Linked DNA regions of Homo sapiens: region 2 is linked to region 1. Evidence: fine-mapped QTL for protein levels in blood plasma. A gene starts in region 1. The other region holds a variant in brackets. All regions are shown on one strand. Distances are between the middles of the regions.

The links. A credible set is the group of variants that fine-mapping cannot tell apart. PIP is the chance, under the fine-mapping model, that this variant and not a neighbour inherited with it causes the effect. Sun 2018 read protein levels with aptamers (SomaScan).
Region 2: its variant is the best candidate, but not a certain one, in a credible set for the plasma level of the EMILIN3 protein (Sun 2018, PIP 0.56).

What each region holds. Positions count from the first base shown.
Region 1 is chr20:41,362,529-41,374,616 of GRCh38, forward strand. It overlaps EMILIN3 (elastin microfibril interfacer 3), which reads right to left and starts at 4,290. Exons shown (of 4, transcript NM_052846.2): 1 at 3,940-4,290; 2 at 2,507-2,629; 3 at 1,110-1,333; 4 at 1-526. The coding sequence starts at 4,106. It also overlaps the pseudogene LOC124904985. RefSeq lists an enhancer at 3,027-3,528.
Region 2 is chr20:41,387,455-41,399,603 of GRCh38, forward strand. No RefSeq gene overlaps it. Among named protein-coding and RNA genes, the nearest start is that of EMILIN3, 27 kb to the left of the region's middle. RefSeq lists an enhancer at 4,219-4,884. The variant C/A (reference allele first, on the strand shown) is at 5,657.

The sequences.
Region 1 (12,088 bases):
GCGGCCTGACCCTCCTCACATTGCCGCCGTACCTCCTGCACCCGCAGGTCACACTCACTCTGGACGCCTTGCAGCTTCTGCTCAAAGCCATCCAGCAGGCTCCCCCAGAGTCGGTGCAGCCGTCGGTCCACGTACTCCTCCAGCAGGGCCAGGGAGGTGAGCGGGGATGGTGGGGCTTCCCGCAGCCGCTGCAGGTGGGCCTCATGGCCAAGTGCCAGCCCATGCACCTTGTCTAGAAGCTGCACCTTGGTCTGAAGAGTGTTGCTCACCTCTGTCACCTTGCTTAGGATCTCGTCTAAGGGAGGTGTTAGTGGCCCTCTGGCTCTGTCTCCTGGGCCCACAAGCCCCTCAGGGATGACCCCAAAGCCCACAGGGACAGCAGGAGCCCTGGGGCCACCAGTCATCCTGTTGGGATCCTCGTGGCTAGCCACCAGGCCACTGAGGGTACCATATGTTTGAGCCAGGCGCTGGACATCACCCTCCAGGCGTTCCAGCCGCTCACCAAACAGCCCTGGGCCTTTCCTTCCTGGGAAAGAGAAGAGAGCCCCAGGGGCATCACTGGCCTCACCCTCTCAGCTTGTCACAATGCCAGGCCACCCAAGAGACTTTCTGTTCTTTTTTTTTTTTTTTGAGACAGAGTCTTGCTCAGTCGCCCAGGCTGGAGTGCAGTGGTGTGCTCTTGGCTCACTGCAAGCTCCGCCTTCCGGGTTCATGCCATTCTCCTGCCTCAGCCTCCCAAGCAGCTGGGACTACAGGCACCCACCACCACGCCCGGCTATTTTTTTTCTATCTTTAGTAGAGATGGGGTTTCACGATGTTAGCCAGGATGGTCTCGATCTCCTAACCTCGTGATCCACCCGCCTCGGCCTCCCAAAGTGCTGGGATTACAGGCATGAGCCACCGCGCCCAGCCCAGACTTTCTGTTCTAAGCCTACCTTCTCACTGGGCATAACTCCCTCAGCTTTATGGTGGGGTGAAAGTGGGGCTTGGGGCTTGCCCCTCCCCATCCATGCCGGAGCTCAGCCAGCCTGGGATCAGTCCCCTCCCTGCCCCTGCCACTGAGCCCAAGAAACCCAATCACCTTGGAGGGTCTCCTTGGGCAGACTCACCATGAGGGCTGGGGGCTGCTCTGCTGTAGGAAGGGGGCCTGGGGCCTGGGTCCAGCTGCCCTGAAGGAATCTGAGGCTCAGGCTCCAGCTGGGGTGAGGCAGCCCCATGGTCCGTGAGGTGCTCAGGGCAGCGTTTCCCAGTGAAGCCGGGACAGCAACGCCAGGCGAGGTCTGTCACTGTCTTGTAGCCAACCTTGTATTTGGGTCTGAGTACTGTGCGGTACCTGGGCCAGGGAGGGCAAGAGAGTGGGATCCTGCACCTGAGGGCTGTGCTTCTCCCCCTAGCTGGCACTCAGGGCCGCCCTCAGACACTTGCATAAGGCTGGGTATCTCCCCACCTCCATAGCACCCCCAGGGCTGTACTTTTTCTGTGCTTAAGGTGACAGGGGTGGGTAAGGGCAGGCCTTCCTGAAGCTCACAGTCATGTTAGGGAAGGATGCAGGTAGAAGTCCCACCCATCCTGGTAGCTTGGAGAGAAGCAGGAATTTTGCCCCATCCCTCCCAAGACCACTTGGACCCCCTCTAGCTCAGGCTGCCATGAGAAATTCCACTCAGGCTGCAGTAGCACCTGGGAGAATCAGACACAGCCCCAGCCCTCCCTGTGGGCAGGGAGGGGCACTGCCCTGGAGCTGGCGCTGGCAGCCCCCTCACTGCCCTGGGGGCCACTCTTGGCTCCTACCTGCTCCCCTTAGTTCTTTCCACTCCTCTCTAGCCTGCTCCGGGACCTCGGCTCTGGTCAGAGAGGCAGATGGACGGGTACCTCTGATTGTGAGCAGGGAAGGGAAGGTCCAGGGTACAGGCAGGCTCGCGAGGGTCCATGCCCTCACTGTTCAGCCACGTACCTGTTCACCCACTGACACACCGGAGACAACAGGTTTGTTTCCACACACACACGTGAACCTCTCCAGGTACAGAGCTGTGCATCCCATGTGCGTGCAGCCCTGCTGCTCCGGCTTCCTCTCCCTGCCCCATGGCCTGCCTCCTTGTGGTCACCACAGTCCTCCCTGGGCCTGCCAGGCCCCCCTGTGGCATCACCCGTTGCCTAAGGGGCCCTCTGCTCCCTCCTCTCCCCTCACCTTCTGCCTCTGTCACTTCCTCCTAGCCTTGTGCTGCCTCTGCCCCCAGAACCTTCCCCTTGTCCCTCTGTGGTTCCTGGGCTCCAACCCAAGCCTGCCCCTGTCTGTGCGGGTGATGCTCTGCTGCAAGCCCAAATCCCTGGGGTCCTCCTTGGCACCCTCTTTTCTGGGGCCGCCTTCTACTCTGGCCTGTATGGGGGCTCAGGTGGGCTCTCTGGAGTCCAAGAAGCCCCTTGTGGAGTTGGCAGCTGCTCTCAGCTGAAGGCAGGACTGGCGCTTGTGCCAGGGGATTCCAAGTGTGTAGGTGAGGAGTGCACTTACGTGACTGTCCCGGGGCACTTGGGCCCCCATCTACACTGCCGGTATTCAGCCTTTACGTAGCTCTCCGCTCCCTCCTGTAGGATGCAGGTCACATTCCTGTGCACCACATAGGCACAGAGGGCCCTACAGGAGAAAATGGCACCCCTGGAATATCTGGCTGAGCGAGGCCCACAGAGGCGCCTACCCTCCCACCTCCATCTGTGGGCCTCAGCAGGACTCCAAACTCCCATGTCTCTTCTGTCTGTTCTCTGTGTCCCTGGGAGCCAACGCCCTTGGTCTGGGGTCCAGCCCCGCTGCTGGTCTCTGATTCCAGCCTCCGTGATGGGTGGCCCCTGGGCTAAGCACTATTTGGAACCAGGAGCCTGATGTGGCTGCCCCTCCCTGCGTGGGGAAGAGGCCAGCCCGGATTCTCCCTCAAGTGCCCTGCCACACCCCCCCATCCTTCGCTGATTCCAAACTCCTTATCTTGGCATTTAAGGCTTCCGAGTCCCCACTCAGTGACTCCTTTGAGAGCACCATGTCTTGTCCTTCCTCCCTGCCTGGCTCCCGGGGAAATCCACCTCTCCTCGTAGTTTTGCAGCCCCTGCCTTTGGTCCTGTTCCCTTACTCTCAGAGCAGTTCTTGTACCACCTCCTCCAGGAGGCTCGCTGTGATGTACCCAGGCCCACTGAGTGTCGGTACTCTTCCTCCTACAACAGCTCTCAAATTCAGCTAGAATTCAAGTTCAGCCAGCACCCCAGGCAGAGCCTCCAGCCCACTTAACTGAGGCCAGTTCGCAAGCCACTGCCCACGAAACACCAGAAGCTGAGGCGGGGAAAGCAGGCTCCTTGATGAGCCACAAGGGCTGAGGAGGTGGCTGCCTGGCATAAGCCGACCGCTGTGGACGGCTGTGCCACAGCACAGGCCCGGAGCCAGGAGCCCGCTCTGGCTCTGCAGCCCGGCCACGCTGGGGCTCCCATGGGGTTGCTGGGGCCAGGCTGACTGCGAGAGGGCAGCGGCCGCCCGGATGCGCAGCTCTATCTCCTACCTGGCCGGGCCAGGGGAGAGAAGGGAGGCCCGGGGCGGGGGAGCCCCGCGTGCTCAGCGCGCGGACCGCCTTTCCTCCTCTCCCTCCACCTGGTCCGCTCGCCCGGAGTCTGCACACAGCGCAGCTGGAAAATGTTACTTCGCTGGAAAGGTTTCCGCTGGCACTGCCAGGATCCCAAGCCGCCGCGCCAGGCCCCCTCGGTTCCTTTTTCCTCGCCAGCCCCGCAACCTCCCGGAGCGTAGGGCGCTCGCCTGGGCAGGGGCTCGGCCCCGGGCGCCGCCCCCTCTGTGCAGCGGCCTCGGGGTGCCCGGGGCCTCGACGCCCCCCGCGGGTGCGGGCAGGTGGGAGCGGCGACGCGCGCGGGCCCATCCCTCCCTCTTCCCGCCCGCCGCCCGCCCGCGCTTACTTGTGCGGCCCCGGGCGCAGCCGCGGGCGCCATCCCGTCGTGTAGAGACTGTAGCGGGAGGCACCGGGCGGCGCAGGCCGCGCCAGGAGCGGGGTGCCCCTGGCCTGCGCCCCCGAGAGCAGCGCCGCGACGGCGCACAGCCAGACGAGCAGGCGGCGGCGGCCCATAGCGGCCCCCGCGCCTCTGCCCGGCCCCGCGCGGTGCCCCCCGCCGGGTGTCCGCCTGCAGCGCCGCGCCGCCCCCGCCGCTGGTCGGCCCGGGTCCCGCCCCGAGGGTCCCGGGGTCCCCTTCGGCCCCCGAGCTCGCTGGCCCGGCCGCCTGGCGCTTCGCGGCGGCTGCGTCCCGCGGAGTGGCCGGCGCTGCTAGCGGCTGGGGCCGCGGAGGGGAGGCGGGAGGCGGGCTCTTTGCGGATTAGCATAAACTTGGGGCCGCGCCGCTCGCCGCCGCCAGCCCCTCGCCCCAGCTCCGAGCGGACGGCCGAGGAGCCGCCTGCGAACAGGAGGTTCCAAAGGGAGCAGCCCCAGGTGGCAGGGGCGCAGGCCGCCGCGCCCTGGGAGGCCCCCCGAGCACACCAGCCACTCTGTCGCCTGCGGGCACGGGGCGAGACGCAGAGAAGCGGACCCCTGAGGCCAGCCTGGGCGTGGACTTTCCAGGAGTCGTCCACCCTCAGGATACGCTTGTCTTCAGAGTCCGTGTGAACCCGGGAACTGCTCTCCAGGGCTCTGGAGCCGAGATGGCCGTGACTGGGGGCACAGCAGCACCACCTCCCCCGCCACCTCTTTGGAATAGACCCCAGATCATCCCCGTTTGCTCGCTCTGCCTCCTGGCCCCATCATTGCCCGGGAACCTTAGTTTGATAACTCCGCTGACCTCTCCCCAGGCATCCCACCTCCCCCTTACCCCGCAACCTCTGCCACGTAGCCTGGTGGCCCGGTTGCACCTCTGGTTCTCTGGAGGCGCCTGTGTTGCCTCTCTGTCTTAGGTATGGGTTGCACCGAGCCCGAAAGGCCTATCACCGCCCCAGCCCAGCCAAAAGTGCTGTGCTTTTCGTGCAACTGAAGCTCTAAGCCGGCTGGTCAGAGAAAATCCTCAGGTCTTTCTCACAAGGCACTGCCGCGGTGAAGCCAGGCGTCGTCCACATTTTGCTTGTGAAGTTGACTCTTGGAACCCAAGAGTTGGGTTTTATCGTCGTCCTCATTCAGTATCACCTTGCTAACTCTCTAACCTGCACAGAGTCCTTCTGATTCTGTCATCAGAGCGGTACTTTCCTGGCCTTGTCTCATCCACACCGGTGGCTACAGCCGTCTGTGTCTTTGCCCCAGGAGCTGATAGGTGTACAGAACTCTGGGGCTTGCTTGGAGAGACCTCCCTCCAAATTGACCTTGAGATATGAATTAATGCCTTTTGGATAGGGTGATGGTTATCAAGGATACTGGAAGGGGCAGCTCCGAAACCCACATCTATTTCCTGCCCTTAGCTTTAGTGGCTTTTGGGTTCTGTGGGGCGGACATCTGACCCCAGCTAGGCCCATCCTGCTTTCCCCCAGGCTTTGGAATCAGAACACAGAAGCTGAAGGAATCCAGCTTCCAGGTGTAGGTTGTGTGAGTTTCTCAGGGCTGTGGTAACAGCCACAGACTCAGTGGCTTAACACACAGAAATGTATTCTTGCACATTTCTGGAGGCTAACTCCAAAATCCATGGGCCAGCAGGGCAATGCCCCCTCCAGTGGCTCTGGGGAGAAGCCTTCCTTGCCTCTTCCAGCCACTGGTGGTTCCTGGCAATCTCTGGCGTTCTTTGGTCAAGGATTCTTTGTAGCAGCATCACTCCAGCCTCTACTTTCCCTCCGCATATCCCTCTTCAGGTGACCTTTTTTTCTCTGTGACTGTGATCTGTGTCCTTTCCTCTTCTTTCTGTTTTTGTTTTTTGAGCCAGAGTCTCGCTCTGTCGCCCAGGCTGGAGTGCAGTGGCGCGATCTCGGCTCACTGCAAGCTCTGCCTCCCGGGTTCACGCCATTCTCCTGCCTCAGCCTCCCGAGTGGCTGGGACTACAGGCGCCCGCCATAATGCCCAGCTAATTTTTTTGTATTTTTTTTTTTTTTTTAGTAGAGACGTGGTTTCACCGTGTTAGCCAGGATGGTCTCGATCTCCTGATCTCGTGATCCGTCCGCCTCGGCCTCCCAAAGTGCTAGGATTACAGGCGTGAGCCACCGCGCCCTGCCTTTCTGGTTGTGTTTTTAAATTTGAGACAGGGCTGGGCGCGATGGCTCATGCCTGTAATCCCAGCACTTTGGGAGGCCGAGGTGGGGGGATCACCTGAGGTCAGGAGTTTGAGACCAGCCTGGCCAATATGGTGAAACCCCATCTCTACTAAAAATAAAAAAATTAGCCGGGCGTGGTGGCGGGCGCCTGTAATCCCAGCTACCTGGGAGGCTGAGGCAAGAGAATCACTTGAACCCTGGAGGTGGAGGTTGCAATGAGCCGAGATCATGCCATTGCACTCCAGCCTGGGTGACAAGAGCGAAACTCCATCTCCATAAATAAATAAATAAATAGAGACAAGGTCTAGCTCCATCACCCAGGCTGGAATGCAGCGTCGACCTCCTGAGCTCAAGTGATCCTCCTGCCCCCACCTCCTCTGTAGCTGGGACCACAGTTGTGCACCACCATGCACAGCTCATTTTTAAAATTTCTGTAGAGATGGGCTCTCACTTTGTTGCCCAAGCTGGTCACAAACTCCTGAGCTCAAGTGATGCTCTCACCTCAGTCTCCCAAATTGCTAGGATTCTAGGCGTGAGCCACTGCACCCAGCCCAGCCTCCTCTTCTTATAAGGACACCAGTCATTGGATGTACAGCCCAACATAACCTCATCTCAAATGATTACGTCTACAAAGACCCTATTTCCAAATAAGGTCACATTCTGAGGTTCCAAATGTTCATGAATTTTGGGAGGGGCACAATTCAATCCACTACAGGGGCACTTGGCTGGTAATGATAGGAGAGACCACGAGAGCTCTGGGGGAATCATGGGAAAGGGAGAAAGAGTGTGGTCAGGGGAGAGAGGGGCAGAGTCAGGGGCTATGTGGTGAGTAACCATCTGGGGACAAGCTGTGACTTCCCTATCTGCTTCCAGTAGTCCACCATTGGAGCTAGCTTGAATGGGTTTCTGATCCCAGCAACCAAATGTGCTCTACAGAGAGAAACTTCTCTAGTCATGAACTGTAGAAATGATCCCTGAAAGTATAGTCTTACAGCAACCACATGGTCCCTAAGACAGCCTTTCACTCTCCCTATAAAAGCACCGAATGTGCTATTATATGCTCCAACCTCTAAGAGAGATGTTATGAACCATTTTGCTGAGGGCAAGATACACCATATCCCCAACAAGCTCTTGATCTTGTAACCACTGACTTTGCGCTTTTTAGGAAGTGAGAAACATCTGAGCCAGCTCCTCATCCTAGGCTGGGTGCTGACTGCCTGGCAGCATTGCCCAGCCTGGCTCTGGGAGGAACTCCCCCACCCCAGAGGCTGTGATCTTTTTCCAAGTGGTCCCACCCCTTCCTCTCACTCCCTTCCCCAGCCCCAGATGTGGGGCCCAAAACTCACAAGGAAGAGGCTGGACCCTGTTTGAGCTTGGAAATATCCACGTCATAGGGGCTAAAAGGATAGCTGGACCCCACTTCCCCCTTTCCCAGGTGGCTGACATCAAACACCATGCTCCCTCTTTCACTGCAACAGTTTTGGGATCCAGGATCTGGGCCCCATTCTAGTGGGGGTGGAGGACCTCAGTACAGGGAGATGCTCAGGGTCTTGGCTGGATCAGGCCAGAGCGGGGGTCCCCCCATAGACGATGAGGCCACTTTGCATCTGCCAGACAGGAAACCTAGGGAGGCCAGAAGCAGAGGAGGAAAGGAGGCAGTCATGTTCCTCTGACTCAGACTGGAGTTTCTACACCTGGATGGAAACGGGCCATACACGGGAGTGGGAGTGCAGTTTCAGTTCACAGGGACATGCACAACCACACCCAACCCATCCCCCATACCACTATCATGCATGTGCATGAGTTTTTCCTTTCGTACAGATGGGGTCTCACTATGCTGCCTAGGCTAGTCTCAGACTCCTGGCCTCAAGTGATCCTCCTGCTTTGGCCTCCCAAAGTATTGGGACTGCAGGGGTGAGCCCTATGCATCCTGCCTTTCTTTTCTGTTCTTTTCTTTTTTTTCTTTTCTTTTTTTTTTTTTACGGAGTCTCACTCTGTTGCCCAGGCTGGAGTGCAGTGGCGTGATCTCGGCTCACTGCAACCTCTGCCTCCCAGGTTCAAGCAATTCTCCTGACTCAGCCTCCCAAGCAGCTGGGATTACAGGCACATGCCACCACGCCTGGCTAATTTTTTGTATTTCTTTTTTTTTTTTTTAGTAGAGACAGGGTTTCGCCATGTTAGCCAGGCTGGTCTCAAATGATCCGCCCACCTTGGCCTCCTAAAGTGCTGGGATTACAGGCATGAGCCACCACATCTGGCCTTTCCTTTTCTTATTGAGGGCCCAGCACATAAGAGTATTAAAAACCACACAAAGTTGTATGGGATGCAGTTCCCCTAAAAGAGACAGAAATAGAAAGCACTGAAGCTGCTGGCTTTCTGGTACAAGCTCTTCCTGCTGCAGATGGACCCCTCCTGCACAGGGACCACAGCCCTTGAAGGCACCAGCCCTAAGGTGCAGCCCTTTGTCCCTGACCATCTCCCTTACCCTCTTTTTTTTTCTTTTTTGAGAGTGCACAGCTAGGCCTCCCTGCCCACAGAGCCACATTTGGAAGTTCTGTGCAGCAAGGCTCTTTGCCCAGGCTCACTTTTTTCTCCACATCATCACCATCAGCATTTTGATTATATCTGCACCATCATAAAAGGTTATACCAAATGCACATGAGTTTCTGAGGCAGGGGTTTGCACTGACCCCATCCAGCTAGGCAGAAGCAGGGCTCGTCCAGGATCCTAGGGGGGATAGATGTGCAGCCTGGAGGCAAGGTCCTGGAAGAGTCCAGAAATCGTGGAAACTGGGCTCTGTAAAGCCTGGACGGACTTCCATTGAGTGAGAGTAGCTTAGGAACAGCTTAGAAATTGTGACTGCTGATGGACTGTCAACATGGACATATGCAAACCAGATGCAACATTACGCAAATTATATACAAAATACATGCACAGGTCTCCCAACTATTGCAAATGCCAGATATGGTCCTTGAGGACCCTAAGTTTAGCTGAGACCTGTTGTGGGGCAGAGAGATCACCCTGGACTTGCCAGTTTCTTTTTTTTTTTTTGAGACTGAGTCTCACTCTGTTGCCCAGGCTGGAGTGCAGTGGCGTGATCTTGGCTCACTGCAACCTCCGACTCCCAGGTTCAAGTCATTCTCGTGCCTCAGCCTCTGGAGTAGCTGGCACTACAAGCGTGAGCCACCACGCCCAGCTAATTTTTGTATTTTCAGTAGAGATGGGGTTTCACCATGTTGGCCAGGCCGGTCTTGAACTCTTGACCTCAAGTGATCCACCTGCCTTGGCCTCCCAAAGTGCTGGGATTACAGGCATGAGCCACTGCACCTAGCTAGGACTTGCCAGTTTTCTTATGGTGGGCAGGAAGGGCTTTGCTCCAAGGTGGTTCACACACTGTGGGGAAGAAATCAGGCAAGGAGTCAATTAGACTCAGGTTTGAATCCCAGCTCTTCCACTCACAAGTTGCATGACCTCCCTTGAGTCACTTCACCCCTCTGAGCCTCTGCTTTCCTATACGAAAATGATTATTATGAGGAATAGATGAGAACTTTGGCCAAGGCTCCCATGTGCACAGTCGTGCACATAACAGACGCCCAGTGAGTGTGGCAGGGCTCTGCACAGAGTCCTTTCTTGGGGGTTGGATATCTGGGCCTCCTTTCTAGTCACTGCAGTAGCAGCTGTGCCCCCTCAGGCTGTGGGCAGGACCTTCTTGCAAAGCAGCACATGCAGCTCTGGGTTTGGAAAATGTCAGTGCTTGGATGGACCAGGAATCCATGTACCTCTCACTCGTCAAGAAATCTGGCAGAGGTCACACTCAACAGGGGTGCTGTGGGTACCCCAGCCAGACTCCCTTTCCCTGGTCAGTGTACCCATGAATCCCCTGGCTGCAGGTGTGATTACTGGGAATGCTCCCAGCTGCCCCTTCTGTGAATTGCCCTTGGCTGAGGAGTGACTGGCTGATAGGGTGAAATGGTTTGGCTGTGTCCCCACCCAAATCTCATCTTGAATTGTAACTCTCACAATTCCCATGTGTCGTGGGAGGAACCTGGTGGGAGGTGATTGGATTATGGGGGCAGGTCTTTCCTGCACTGTTCTCATGATAGTGATTCAGTCTCACAAGATCTGATGGTTTTAAAAAGGGGAGTTTCCCTGCACAAGCGCTCTTTTCTTGTCTGCCGCCATGTGAGATGTGCCTTTCACCTTCCACCATGATTGTGAGGCCTCCCCAGCCACGTAGCTGTAAGTCCAATAAACCTCTTTCTTTTGTAAACTGCCCAGTCTAGAATATGTCTTTATCAGCAGTGTGAAAATGGACTAATATACAGGGGGACAAAAAAGGCAGCCTCCTCGCCTCATGGTGGACAGCCCAGTGTTAGTTTATGTTGCAGAGCCCCCTTGGTCAGGCCCCTCTAGACTCTACCTGGGATCCATTCTTGCTCTATTTCCATCCTCTCCTGTTTTCCTACCTCCCTTATGTATCTCTCCCAGGAGCCCCCTTGATAAATGACTTATAACTAGATCCCTGTCTCAGGATCTGCTTTTGTGGAACCCAACCCAAGAGAGGGGGACAGACCTGCATGCAGAGGGGGACATGAACTTGTATAGTCAGGAACCATAGGGTAGCGTGGGCTCACAGAGGAAGAAGTGCCTGGGTGCCTGAGCTTGGGGGAAGGGATCAGAGGGTGTTTCACAAAACAGGCAACACTAGAGTTCACCGCACGGGGAGAAAGCACCGTGGGTGGTGGGTGCGGCATGTGCATGGCCTGGAGGCAGGAGAGAGCCTGGTATGTATGGGGAACCCCGCAGAGCTCTGGGTAGCCCAGGCTCCAAGAGAGGTTGGCAGGGGCCAGACAAGAGGGGCCTTGAATACCCCAGTGAAAAGTCTGGACTTTACAGCTGGAAACGATGCATGCAGAACTGTCGGGAAAAACATCCTGTGGCTGCAGCTGTGTGGAGCAGACACACGAGGTGGGGTGCCGGTGGGGTGGCCCTGGCAGCTGTCAGCCACCAGGCTAACAGGGACCGAGGGATGAGGAACAGGGCTAGATTCTAGAGGCTTTCAGGACAAAGGACTAAAAGGCCTTGGTGGCTAATCTGGGGCTCTGGGTGTGGGAAGGAGTCTAGAAGGTACCACAAAGAGAGGAGACAAAACATCAGGGCTGAGGCAGGGTTGAATGAGCTGTACAGGGCAGGGGTCTGCATTCCCTGTGCCCACCACAGCTAGAGCCAGGCTGAGCCTCCAGTTGGAAGGTCCGGACACTGACCAGAGTATGTGGCACAGCTGGCCTGACCCCAGTAAGGACCTGGGGCTGCCCCTTGCTGGAGGGGCTGGCCTCCAGGCCTGATTAGGACAGGGATGGGGAGAGGCTGGGGGCGGGGGAGTAGAGTGCAGAGCTGCTCAGGCATTGATGCGGGGGTGTGGTTGCAAGGCCCTGGGAAGGGCTCACCATCAGCTCTCCTCTAACTCTTCTATTCATGGACACCAGAGTAAAAACTACACAAGATTACCCACTGGTGATGGGGGAGGCAGGCTTGCAATGCAGGGTGTGTGCAGAGAGGCCAAAACAAGCAGGGGAGGGGGCTACCCTCCATGGGGGGAAGGAAGGGGAGGGTGTTGCCATGGAAGACTCATGCTTGGACAGGCAGAACCTGACCTTCACCCAGACACTGTCCTTATCTCAGACCTGCTCTGCCTTAATTCCTTAATTTGCTGGGACATTTGCTGGGCACCCGGTGCTGGAAGCACAGACAGGTCGGCTCCAGGCTCTGTGCTCAAGGCATCCAGAGGGGCAGAGGTGGATGAGAGTTAGAGAAGCCCCAGGAGGGGCCAGAAAGGGGCCTGGGGAGGTGAGAGGGGAAAGAGCATCCATGGTGGGAGACACATGCTCCAAT
Region 2 (12,149 bases), 25 kb after region 1:
ATGAAGTAAGCAGCACAGCACGGGGCTCAGAAAGCCTTGACTTTCCCTGAGTGGAGAGAACAGGGGCCCAAGTCACCGAGCATCCTCCCCTACTCCTCTCAGCAACACGGATGCCCCTGGGCAGCACGGGCTGCATTTTCCCTGGAACACTGGAAAAGAGCCAAGGTGGGGAGCTCACCACCTCCCCCAGTGGCTTGTTCCATGGCCCTGCAGCTCCAACGGATAGAACATTCTTCCGTTCACTGAGCCAAAGGCGGCCTCTGTGTGACCCCCAACTGGTCTGAGTTCTGCTCTCTGGAGCTCTGCTGAGCAGGCCACACCCTCTTTCACCTGATACCCTCGAGTATGGGAAGACAGAGACCGAGTCTCCCAACCCTTTTCCTAGTAGGCAGCTGCAGTTATGACATCAGATGGACGAAGATTAAGATGCTCTAAGGAGAGATGTTCAAAATCCCAAACAAGAAAAGTCTCAACGTCTGGGGGAATGATTCTGTGGTTCTCCCTGTGTAGATGTTAATAAAATCTGTATGCCTTCACTCCAATTCAAAGAGAAAAGGGCCAGGCTCACGCCTGTAATCCCCACAATGGGAGGCCGAGGAGGATCACTTGAGCCCAGGAGTTTGAGATCAGCCTGAGCAACATAGAGAGACCTGTCTCTACTAAAAATAAAAAAATTAACCAGGGGTGGTGGCATGTGTCTGTGGTCCCAGCTAATTGGGAGGCTGAGGTGGCAGGATCACTTCAGCTCGGGAGGTCGAGGCTGCAGTAAGCCATGATTGTGCCACTGCACTCCACCCTGGATGAAAGAGCAAGACCTTGTCTCAAAAGGAAAAAAAGAAAAGTCACAAAATCTGAATGCAGTCACAGGGGTGAGGTGTCCACAAAGAGATAAAGTCATCATCTTCTCCAAATGAATCTATACACACAATGCCCTTCCAACAAATTTCCAATCAAATTGGTGGGGGTAGGGAGAGGGTGCAATATAAAGTTGAACGTTAAGTGTAGAATACTCACCATGTCTCCGCAGATGAAAAACATTAAAGCGGGACTTACCCTCTCAGCTGTTAAAACACAGGTAACACTAAAATACATTGAACATTATGGTACTTGTGCCGGCGCAGCAGAGAGGGAAATGGCACAGAAAATGGAAACACGAGCAGTAGACCCATCTCCATATGAGAATGTGGAATGTGGCAAAGAAATGCATGTCACACTAAAGCAAATAGGAAATTTCAACAGTGGTTACCTTTGGGGAGAGGGACTTGGCGTGGGACAGTAGTGAGTGAGAGGGAAGTGTTCACTTTTCATTTTGTATCTTTTAGAGTTGTTTTATTTTCCAACCTTATATATTTTTGTTTGTTTGTTTGTTTTTGTTTTTGAGACAGAGTCTTGCTTTGTTGCCCAGGCTGGAGTGCAGTGGTGCAATCTTGGCTCACTGCAACCTCTGCCTCCTGGGTTCAAGCGATTCTCCTGCCTCAGCCTCCTTAGTAGCTGGGACTACAGGCGCACACCACCATGCCTGGCTAATTTTTTGTATTTTTAGTAGAGACGGGGTTTCACCGTGTTAGCCAGGTTGGTCTCGATCTCATGACCTTGTGATCCGCCTGCCTCGGCCTCCCAAAGTGCTGGGATTACAGGTGTGAGCCACGTGCCCTGCCATATGTATTCTTTTTTTTAAAAAAAGCCAACATATATATATACCTATATATACACACACGTATACATATATACACACATATACATATATATGCATATATATATATATATATATTTTTTTTTTTTTTTTTTTTTTTTTTGAGACAGGGTCTCACTCTGTTGCCCAGGCTGGAGTGCAGTGGCGTGATCTCAGTTCACTGCAACCTCCTTCACCTGAGAAGCCAACATGTTTTTATGCCAAAATATGTTCCAGAGGTTTTGATCCCTTTTGGGTTTTCTCTTTTGAATATTTCTGCACTTAAGAGAAACCTAGTAAGTGTTATAACACGAATAATAATAGGATCTATAACAAATGATGAACAGTTATTGCCTCTACCTCAGGGAGGTAAAAGGGGAGGGCTTTTACTTCCTTAGCCATACATTTCCACACTTCTCATCCCCCTCCTGCTCGTTCCTCTTCTTTTTTCTGGATAGCATGTATAACTTTAAAAATCGAGGAGAGGGGGGAATTGAAAATTTGAAAAAAAAAAAAAAAACAGGGCAGAAATGATGGATTACTTAAGATGTGGGACTGGACAACTGGCTAACAATTTGGAAAAAAGTTAGATTTCTACCTTAAATCTAAATATACTGCAGATGGCTTAAAGATTTAAATGCTAGAAGGTAAACCATAAAAGAATCCGAATACTTACACAATTTTAGGATAGGGGACAACTTCCTAAGAAGACATCATATGAACAGACTGATAGATTTCATGACATAATAATGGGAGGCTTCTTTCTAACAAAACATAATAAAATAAGGTCAAACTGTGAAAAAAAAGACAAACAATATTTAACAGAGGATCAAGCATTTTAATATAGAAAAAGCTCTTACAAGAATTCCTGCCTCATAATTGTTTTCCCTAAGCCAAGAATGGGGGGGAATTTGACCACAGTGAAATCAGGGTTTCTAAGGGCAGGAGGAAGGTAGGAGGGGAGGGGCTGAACGGAGTTTTCAGGATGGGGGTGGACAGCTCAGGGGGACAGCTCCAGGGCCAGGGTTGGGTGACCTCCATGTGGCAGGGGTTCCCCACTCTCCCTGGCATTCACAGTCTTATCTGGTGCCAGTCACTTCCCCAGCCAGCCTGACCTCCCTGCCTGGGACATTTAACATTTTGCCATCTTCCTCACACATCAGGCATTTCCCTGTTTCCATGACTTTTGCAAATGCTGGTCCTTCTGCTTGGCTCACTCTCTTTCATCTCTACCTGAAAAAAAATCCAACTGCTCCTTCAAGGCTCAGCTCAAATATCCCCTGTTCTGCAAAACTGTCTTTAATCCATCTGCCCCCACTGCCCCCAAGGAACTCCCCTTGGGCTCCTATGGCAACTGCCCATCAGTCTATTCAGCACTTACTATACAGCATTGTCATTTTCTGCTCACTGGCTCACTCTAGACAGGGAGCTCCAGGGACCCCTTTCCCCTTCTCCAGGTCCGGCAAAGAGCAAGTGCTCAATTAATATTTCATGAACAAATGCATCGTACTGTGAGTGACAGAGCAGGGCAACTGAACTGACACTAGTTGAGCTTCAGGTTCAGTCCATTTCTTTTATATTTTTTGAGACAGGGTCTTGCTCAGTCACTCAGACTGGAGTGCAGTGGCATGATCATGGCTCACTACAGCCTTGAACTCCCGGGCTCAAGCAATCTTATCACCTCAGCCCCCTAAGTAGCTGAGACTACAGGTATGTGCCATTGTGCCCGGCTAATTTTTTATTTTTTGTAGAGATGGGGCCTTGCTATGTTATTAAGGCTGGTCTCAAGCTCCTGGCCTCAAGAGGTCCTCCTGCCTGAGCCTCCCAAAGTGCTGGGATTATAGGCATGAGCCATTGTGCATGACTGATTTATTTCCTAAAACAGCATGCTTTTATTTAAAATAAGGGCAAGTTATTTAACTATGATGCAATTAAGAGAAATAATTATGTATAATTCAATTATGATGCAATAATTTATCATAACTGCATCATAGTTAAAAGATGCCAAGTTACTGTAAGATCAGAAGACCTACGCTAAGGCACAGTGGTACGTGAATGCACTTGAACTATTGAAAGCCGCTGTCAGACTCCACAATGGCTTTCATTTTTATTTATTTATTTATTTATTTATTTATTTTATTTATTTTTTATTTTTATTTTTGAGACAGAGTCTCGCTCTGTCGCTCAGGCTGGATGGAGTGCAGTGGCGCGATCTCGACTCACTGCAAGCTCCGCCTCCCGGGTTCACGCCATTCTCCTACCTCAGCCTCCCGAGTAGCTGGGACTACAGGCGCCCGCCACCACGCCCGGCTAATTTTTTGTATTTTTAGTAGAAACGGGGTTTTACCGTGTTAGCCAGGATGGCCTCAATCTCCTGACCTCGTGATCCGCCCGCCTCAGCCTCCCAAAGTGCTGGGATTACAGGCGTGAGCCACCGCGCCCGGCCCATTTTTAAAACATTTATAAACAAAAGAGGTTTAATTGACTCATAGTTCTGCATGACTGAGCAGGCCTTAGAATCATGGTGGAAGGCAAGGAGAAGCAAGGCACATCTTACATGAGGGCAGGAGGTGGCGGGGCAGAGAGAGAGAGCGCGCCTCAATGGCTTTCAATAGTTCAAGTGCATTCACACCAGGCGCATTCCTGCGCTTGAGATTCCTAGCATCAGCCAGGAGCGGCTTAGTGGGAGAAAGAGCTGCGACGGTGATGATAGTGACATTCCAAAGTTTTGTGGCAACATGAAGGAGGAGGTGTGTCTGCGCTTGCACAGTGACTGCAGCCCTTGGGCAGATGTGGAGAATGTGTGAGGCTAAAGGCTCCCACGCAGCATGGGGCATGGGGAGCCTGAATGTAAGCCCCAGGGCAGGAAGTTTTGCCTATTTGCTCACCGTGTAATCTCCAGCATCTAGAATAGCATAGTAGGCCTTTGGTAAATATCTGTTGAATGGAAGGACTAAAATTAGTTCTGGAAGTGTCTGGGGATGGGGCTTAAGTTACCTCTGCAGGGTCTCCAAGGCTAAATCCTTTTCCTGAGTTAGAAAAACAGGGCTGTTCTCACTGAAGTTTTGGCCTTCAGAGTGTGATGAGGAGTGCAAAGGGGCACGGGGCAGCTTCAAGGACAGGGCTGGGACCACAGAGGGTGAGAAAAGGGCACAAGGGAGGAGGGGTGCTCCCAAGATGGCAGCCCCTAGAGATCTGGGCTGGGTCTTGCTTTCCTCCCTGGGGCCAGTGCAGCAGGAGAGGGTGCTGGGTAGGGGTGCTGGGGGCTGAGAGGACCAACCCAGCTTCACCAGGCCCAGAAGAGAAGATGCACACAGGGAGAAGGCAGCTGTATGCAGTGGGCTCAATAAAGAGGATTTGGGCTGGGCGTGGTGAGTCATGCCTATAATCTCAGTGCTTTGGGAGGCCAAGTGGGGAGGATGGCTTGAGGCCAGGAATTCCAGACCAACCTGGGCAACACAGCAAGACCCCATCTCTATGATACATTTAAAAAAAAATTAGCCAGGTGAGTGGTGCACACCTGTAGTTCTAGTTACTTGGGAGGCTCAGGTGAGGGGATCAGTTGAGCCCAGGAGTTCAAGGTTGGTTACGGCAAGCACTCCAGCCTGGGTGATGGAATGAGAAATGAAACCCTGTCTCTAAATAAATAAATAAATAAAAAGATTTGCCTCTGTATAACAGGAGTTTGAATTTAGGGCTCAAAAAGTCAAGTACATTCTCAAAATCACTCAGAGAGTGACAAAATCAGGATTCAATTTCACATCTTTCTAATTCCAGAGCCTGACTTTTTTTCACTCCGCTAAAAAAAGTGACGTCACAGGCACATGGCAGGCATGGAGCCCCAGGCGAGCCAGGTCTCAGTCTGGGTCAGTGTAGCCCCAGGGCTGGGATCAGAACCACAGTCGTTCTGGAGACAGGGCCAAACTAGGGTTAGAGGTCAGGGAGGCCAGGCCTGAGAACAACAGGCTTTCCGGGCTTTGTGCC[C/A]CCAGCCAGACACAGTGTCCTGGGATTGGTGGCAGGGCCTGCTGGAGCCCCCAGCTCCCTCTTTCCACCCCCCATCTAGGGCCTGGCCTGACCTTCCTCCCCAGGGCAAGGAACTGGCCTGGCTCTTATCCTGGAGGAGGCTGCAGCTGCTCCTGCAGCCCTGGTCCCAGCAGACAAAGGCGCTTTCTTTCCTAGTACAAGGTCTTGATTGCATGTTGCCCTGGATCCAAAAGTTCCTATGGAGGAAGCAGTTTCCTCCCAGGGTGTGTGTGTGTGTGTGTGTGTGTGTGTGCACGCACGTGTGTGCTGGGTTTCAGGGAGTTGGGCTGTCAGGGAGTGCAAGCCCTCTCCCAGCCTCCTGGGTTTAGCCTGGCATTGCTCAATCTGCATCCTTTGTGTACATCTCTAAGTGTCTATGCATGTGTGTGTACGTGGTGGTGTGTGATTGTATGTATGAGCATGTTTGTGCATGTCCCTGCAGCTGCAGGTGCGACTGCCTAGTATGTACCTGTGCATATTTCTGTACACATCAGCACATGCTTATACACAGTCGCAAGCCTACGTATCTGTGTAACTTGTGTCTGTGCCCACATGCGTTTGGGGGTGTATGCATATGTTTCATGTGTGTGTCTACATGAGACACCTGGTACCAGGTCCCTAACTCTGCTGCCTCTGGCTGTGCCTCCCCACACCCTCTGCTGCTGTGTGGGGGCTCTGCAGTATGCAAGTCCTCCTAAAATAGCCCCCTTTCTTCTTCCCAACCCCCGGCCCCGCCTCTGCATTTGTCTGGGAACAACCTGGCCTCTTTCAGCTCTGGGAGGAAGACAGGTTTGTACAGCTTGGCTTGGCCCATACACTTTCCAAAACTCTCTGGCTCCCAGCCAAACTCTTTATAAAAAGGCTCATGGGGAATAGCCTAACAGGAAGGTGGGAACTCTGCCTGGGGGGCTCAGGAACCCTGCTCCAAGCCCCAAGATTAAATGGGAGCATCAGTCAGCTGAACTTCAGCCAGAGACGGCCCTGCAGCCTGAAGGTGAACTTGGTCAATGGACCCTTCACCCCCAAAGATGGGGACACAGCATCTCAAGGTCTCATGTCCAGGGTGGCAGAGCTCGGAGGGGTCCCAGGGCTCAGGCAGCTCAACTCCCCATGGGCACACTGGAGGGAGAGGCCCAGAGTGATGCCCCAGACCAGGCAGGAGCTGAGCCACTTCCTAGCATCCTGCAGCCCCAGGCCCTGGTGACCCTGCCATGGATAACCCTGGGTCTGCCTCTTCTGCAGGGAGGTGGGTGCCACTGCCAGACTTCAGAGTAGCAGGCTCTGAGCCTGGCTGGCCCTTTTGCTCAAGGCCTCCTGAGTCCATATCACAAAGTCAGTGTTTGAGCACAGGGTTGGTTTACCCAGCACTTGCCTTACTTGGGGTGCAGGGGACCTCAAGCTGTTTCTCCTAGTCCCACTGAGGCACAAGAGAGGGGCTTTCTGTACTGCTATCTCCCCTACTGGGGCTCAACCCAGTCTTTTTTTTTTCTTTGAGACTGAGTCTCACTCTATTGCCCAGGCTGGAGTGCAGTGGTGCAATCTTGGCTCACTGGAACCTCCGCCTCCCGCGTTCAAGTGATTCTCCTGCCTCAGCCTCCTGAGTAGCTGGGATTACAGGCACGCACCACCATGCCTGGCTAATTTTTGTATTTTTAGTGGAGACGGGGTTTCACCATGTTGGCCAGGCTGGTCCCGAACTCCTAATCTCAAGCGATCCACCCAACTCGGCCTCCCAAAGTGTTGGAATCACAGGTGTGTGCCACCGTACCTGGCCTCCACTGGGTCTTAAGGGTGCCCTAGGGTGAAGATGGGAGGGCAGTCCAATGGGTAAGACCCTATCTCAAGTGGATGCTCAGGGCACAGGTGGCACCCCCCTCACTGGTCTGTCACAGGAGACACAGGGGCTGCTGCTGGAGATGCCACAGCCGTGTGGGAGGGGCAGGCTGGTGGGGCAACTGAGGAAGAGGATCCCAGAAGCCTGGGTTCAGACATGGCTCCAGGGGGCTCCTGGGTGCTGGAAACAGACGAGACACCCTCAAAGAGGCTGGTTCCTTCAGTCCATCCCCACTGACCGCTGCCAACCACCCCTTTCCTCTTCCCTTCAGAAACCTTTTTCCAGGCGGGAGGGATGGTAGCTGGGAAGCTTTGCTCTTATCTGGCATGTGCCCAGGCCAGGCACCGAAACTCAAAAGCCAAGCAGAGAATCTTTTTTTGTCTGCTTCCGATTGTCGTACCTTGTCCCTGAGAGACACTCATGGACCAGCCCAGCTTGAAAAGGAGCCAGAGAACACAAGAAACAACCAGTAACTCCAAAGAAAGGTCAGGGTTTCAAGAACATTGTGCCCCCCCGGTTGACTGTGCAGAGCAAGTACCTCTTTGGATGGAGGTTTTATTTCTTTGAACTCTTGTTCCTTACAGAGGCTGGGAGTGGTTGGGCCCACAGGGTGGGGGTGGTGGACTCCTTGTCCTTGGGCCTGTTTTGGGGATGCTGGGTTGCGCACTGGGAGTGGAGTTGGTGGGGGCTCTGAATTCTCCCACGCTCAGTCTAGGGATGGGAGCTGCCTCTTTCTTCCCTCATGGGATGCTAATTATCCTCAACTTGTCTGGGAGAAGAAAGGAAGTAGCTGCAGGGGCTTAGCCAGGAGGAACACCTGCTCCCCTGCCCCACCGCCCTCCAGCTCTCCCTCCCTCCCTCCTTCCCTCTCTCTCAGATGCACACCAACACTAGGAGTATCCTTATATACGTATGTGCTGCTTCTTGACGGGGAAATTTGACAAGGGACTGGGGTGAGGGTAGGGGTGTCTTCTACCTGGGGAGGCCCAAGGGGCTGCGGCTGGGGCTTTCCTCAGCCTCATACAATCCACCGCCCCGCCCCCAACCCCTGCCCAAGGCACTCACGGTGCCTTGTGCCTCCGGGCTCTTTGCCGGTCTGGAAAGTCTGGGATCTGTGAATGGAAAAGCCTGGGTCAGAGCTGGAGTGGGGAGTGGGTGGGGGTTGGGAGCTGTGTCTACAGAGTTTAGAGTTTTCTTGGTCTGAGCCAGGAAAGAGTCTAAACACCCAGCAGTGCTGAGTCCTTGCCTGCCCTGTGCAGCGTGGACCTTCCTCGGCCCAGCTCTCCTGCCCTATGCAGGCTTTGGGAGTCCCTGAGGATTTTCAAAGAGCCCCAAGGCGCTGGGGACAGAGAAAGGTGAGGCCAGGTTGTCATCCTGAGGGGGAACAGGCACACACAGCCAGCAGGGGCCTGATGGTAGATGAGACCAGGGTGACGTGGCAAAGCTGCTTCAGTCTGGCCACAGCACTGCATCGACCTGGACTCTTGAGCCTCTCCTAGTGTCCTGCTTCTGAGAGCCAGCTGGACATCTCAGTGGGGAACAGGACAGTCACTCTCGAGGCAGGAGGATCGCTTGAGCCCAGGAGTTCGAGGCTACAGTGAGCTGTGATCACACCACTGCACTCCAGCCTGGGTGACAGAGGGAGATTTTGTCTCAAAAAAACAAAAACAAAAACAGACAAACAAAAAAGACTCAGTGTGAAGAGGGGAGGGGGACAGGGCAACTCCAGTGTTTCCTCCAAAGTGAAAGTATGCCCTCGGGTTTGGAGGCTGGCCCTCAAGAAGCATGCCCAAAGCCAAGGGCTTCTTGGAAGCATTTTATCTCAAAAGTAGACATGAATCTTATATTCCACTATGTGATTCATTTTTATACAAAACCATGTTGGAGTTAATATGAAATATATATATATATATATATATATGTATGTGTGTGTGTGTATTTTTTGAGATGGAGTCTCACTCTGTTGCCCAGGCTGGAGTGCAATGGTTCCATCTCGGCTCACTGCAACCTCTGCCTCCTGGGTTCAAGCAATTCTCCTGCTTCAGCCTTCCCAGTAGCTGGGATGACAGGCTCCTGCCACCACACCTGGCTAATTTTTGTATTTTTAGTAGAGATGGGCTTTTGCCATGTTGGCCAGGCTAGTCTCGAACTCCTCACCTCAGATGATCCGCCCGCCTTGGCCTCCCAAAGTGCTGGGATTACAGGCATGAGCCACTGTGCCTGGCCATATGAAATATTTTAAATGAGTTTTTGCATTGAATCTATGAATAAAATTGATGCTGCAGGATGGGGATCGACAAACTTTTTCTGCAAAGGATCAGACAGTATAATAAATATTTTCGACTTTGCAGGCTGTGTGGTCTCTGTGACCACTGCTGTCGTAGCCCAAAAGCAGCTTTGTATAGACAATACACAAAGGAATGAGTATAGCTGTGTTTAATAAAACTTTATTTATGGCCACTAGAATTTGGATTTGGGATCTTTTTTTTTTTTTTTTTTTTGGAGACAGAGTCTCGCTCTGTCACCCAGGCTGGAGTAGAGTGGCGCGATCTCAGCTCACTGCAAGCTCTGCCTCCTGGGTTCACAACATTCTCCTGCTTCAGCCTCCCGAGTAGCTGGGACTACAGGCGCCCGCCACCACACCCGGCTAATTTTTTGTATTTTTAGTAGAGATGGGGTTTCACCGTGTTAGCCAGGATGGTCTCGATCTCCTGACCTCGTGATCTGCCTGTCTTGGCCTCCCAAAGTGCTGGGATTACAGGTGTGAGGGGATTATTTTTATGTTCATGAAATATTTCCCTTTGATTGTCCAATTATTTATAAATGTGAGTCCTGGTTCTTGGCTTGTGGGCCGTAGCTCTCACTCCACCCTGGGAAGAAAGCGTGTTGGGCCTGTGGCTCCACATGCAAAGCCAAGGCCTGAGCAAGAACACTAGATTCTGGAATCAGACCCATCTCTAAATTCTTGTTCTTCCTCATTAGTTATGCCACTGAAGGCAGGTGACAACCTACCTGAGCCTGGTCCTCTCCTGGAGAACGTGTTTTGGAATGAGCTCACAGAAGGCCTGCACAGTAGGTATTGACTAAGCAGTGCTGTGGCCACCTTTAGTGGTGCATGTAGCTGAGCTGCCTGGGTAGGAGGAAGGTCATGGCCAGCAGATGAGTGGGTGAGATGTGCCTCTTCCCCCTCCCTAGTCAGCTCCCCCATCCTTTTCCCCAGGTCATTCTAGCTGAACAGTTGTCCTACTCCCTGCCATCCTTCTTTCCACCTTCCAAGATTGGACACTGCTTCTCATGGGGCTCCTTGGCCCTGGGCTGGTGAGTCCAAGCACTTAGACACTTACTCCCTAGGATAAGCCCCAGCTCAGAGGCCTCCCAACACCAGCACTGCGGGATGGGAGGGAAAAACTGAGGCTAACTGCCTCCCCACTGGCCTCAGGGATGGTAGCTGCAGTGCAAGGGCCAGAGCAGCCTCTCTCCCCTTGCTCATCATTTGTGCTTAGTGCTATTTTATGAAGCTGCACTCTAGAGGGATGGCCTGCTCCAAGCCTCAGACTAAAGATGCCCAGCTCCCCTCCTGGTCAGTTTACAGTTCTGGGTTTACTCCTTCTGAGTTCCCGAAGCCCAGCCCTGACATTTTCCAGCTGGATGATTGGGCAAGTTACTTAGCCTCTTTGGGCCTGGGCCTGTTTCCTTGTATGTATGAGGATAACCTCATAGGGTTATTGCGGGGATTAAGAATTTGGCCATAACATATGTAGAACAAATCCTACTCACAGGAAGTGCCTAGTAAATAGCACACTATTGCTACTAAGTAAGGTTACCAGATAAAATACAGGCTGTCTGGTTAAATTTGAGTTCCAGATAAACAACAGATTTTTTAGGCTGGGGGTGGTGGCTCACGTCTGTAATCCCAGCGCTGTGGGAGGCTGAGGTGAGAGGATTGCTTGAGGCCAGGAGTTTGAGACCAGCTAGGGCAACATATCAAGATCCCATCTCTACAAAAGATAAAAAATTAGCTGGGCATGGTGGCTCATGCCTGTGGTCCCAGCTACTTCAGAGGCTGAGGAGGGGGCGTCGCTTAAGCCTGGGAGTTTTGAGGTTGCATTTTTTTTTTAGAGACAGGGTCTGGCTCTGCTGGCCAGGCTGGAGTGTAGTGTTGTGATCACAGCTTCCTGCAGCCTCAACCTCCTGGGCTCAAGTGATCCTCCCACCTCAGCCTCCTGAGTAGCTGGGACCACATGCACACACCATCATGCCTGGCTAATTTTTCAAAATATTTTTTGTACAGATGAGGCCTCTGTATGTTGCCCAGGCTCAAACTCCTGGATTCAAGTGATCCTCCCCCTTCAGCCTTCCAAAGTGCTGGAATTACATGGTGAGCCACCACACCCAGCCAAAAATATTTAAATAAATTTAAAAAGGGAAAATTTTTAAAAGTGCATATACCAAATACTGTATGAGATATACTTACTCTAAAAAATGTCTACATGAAATTAAAATTTAACTGGGCGTTAACTTTCCCTCCTAAATCTGGCACTCCTACACTGAGGGAGGCTCCACAAACCCAGGAACTTTCCTGTTCCCCAGCCCCAAAACAGCCCCCACATCCCTCTAGTC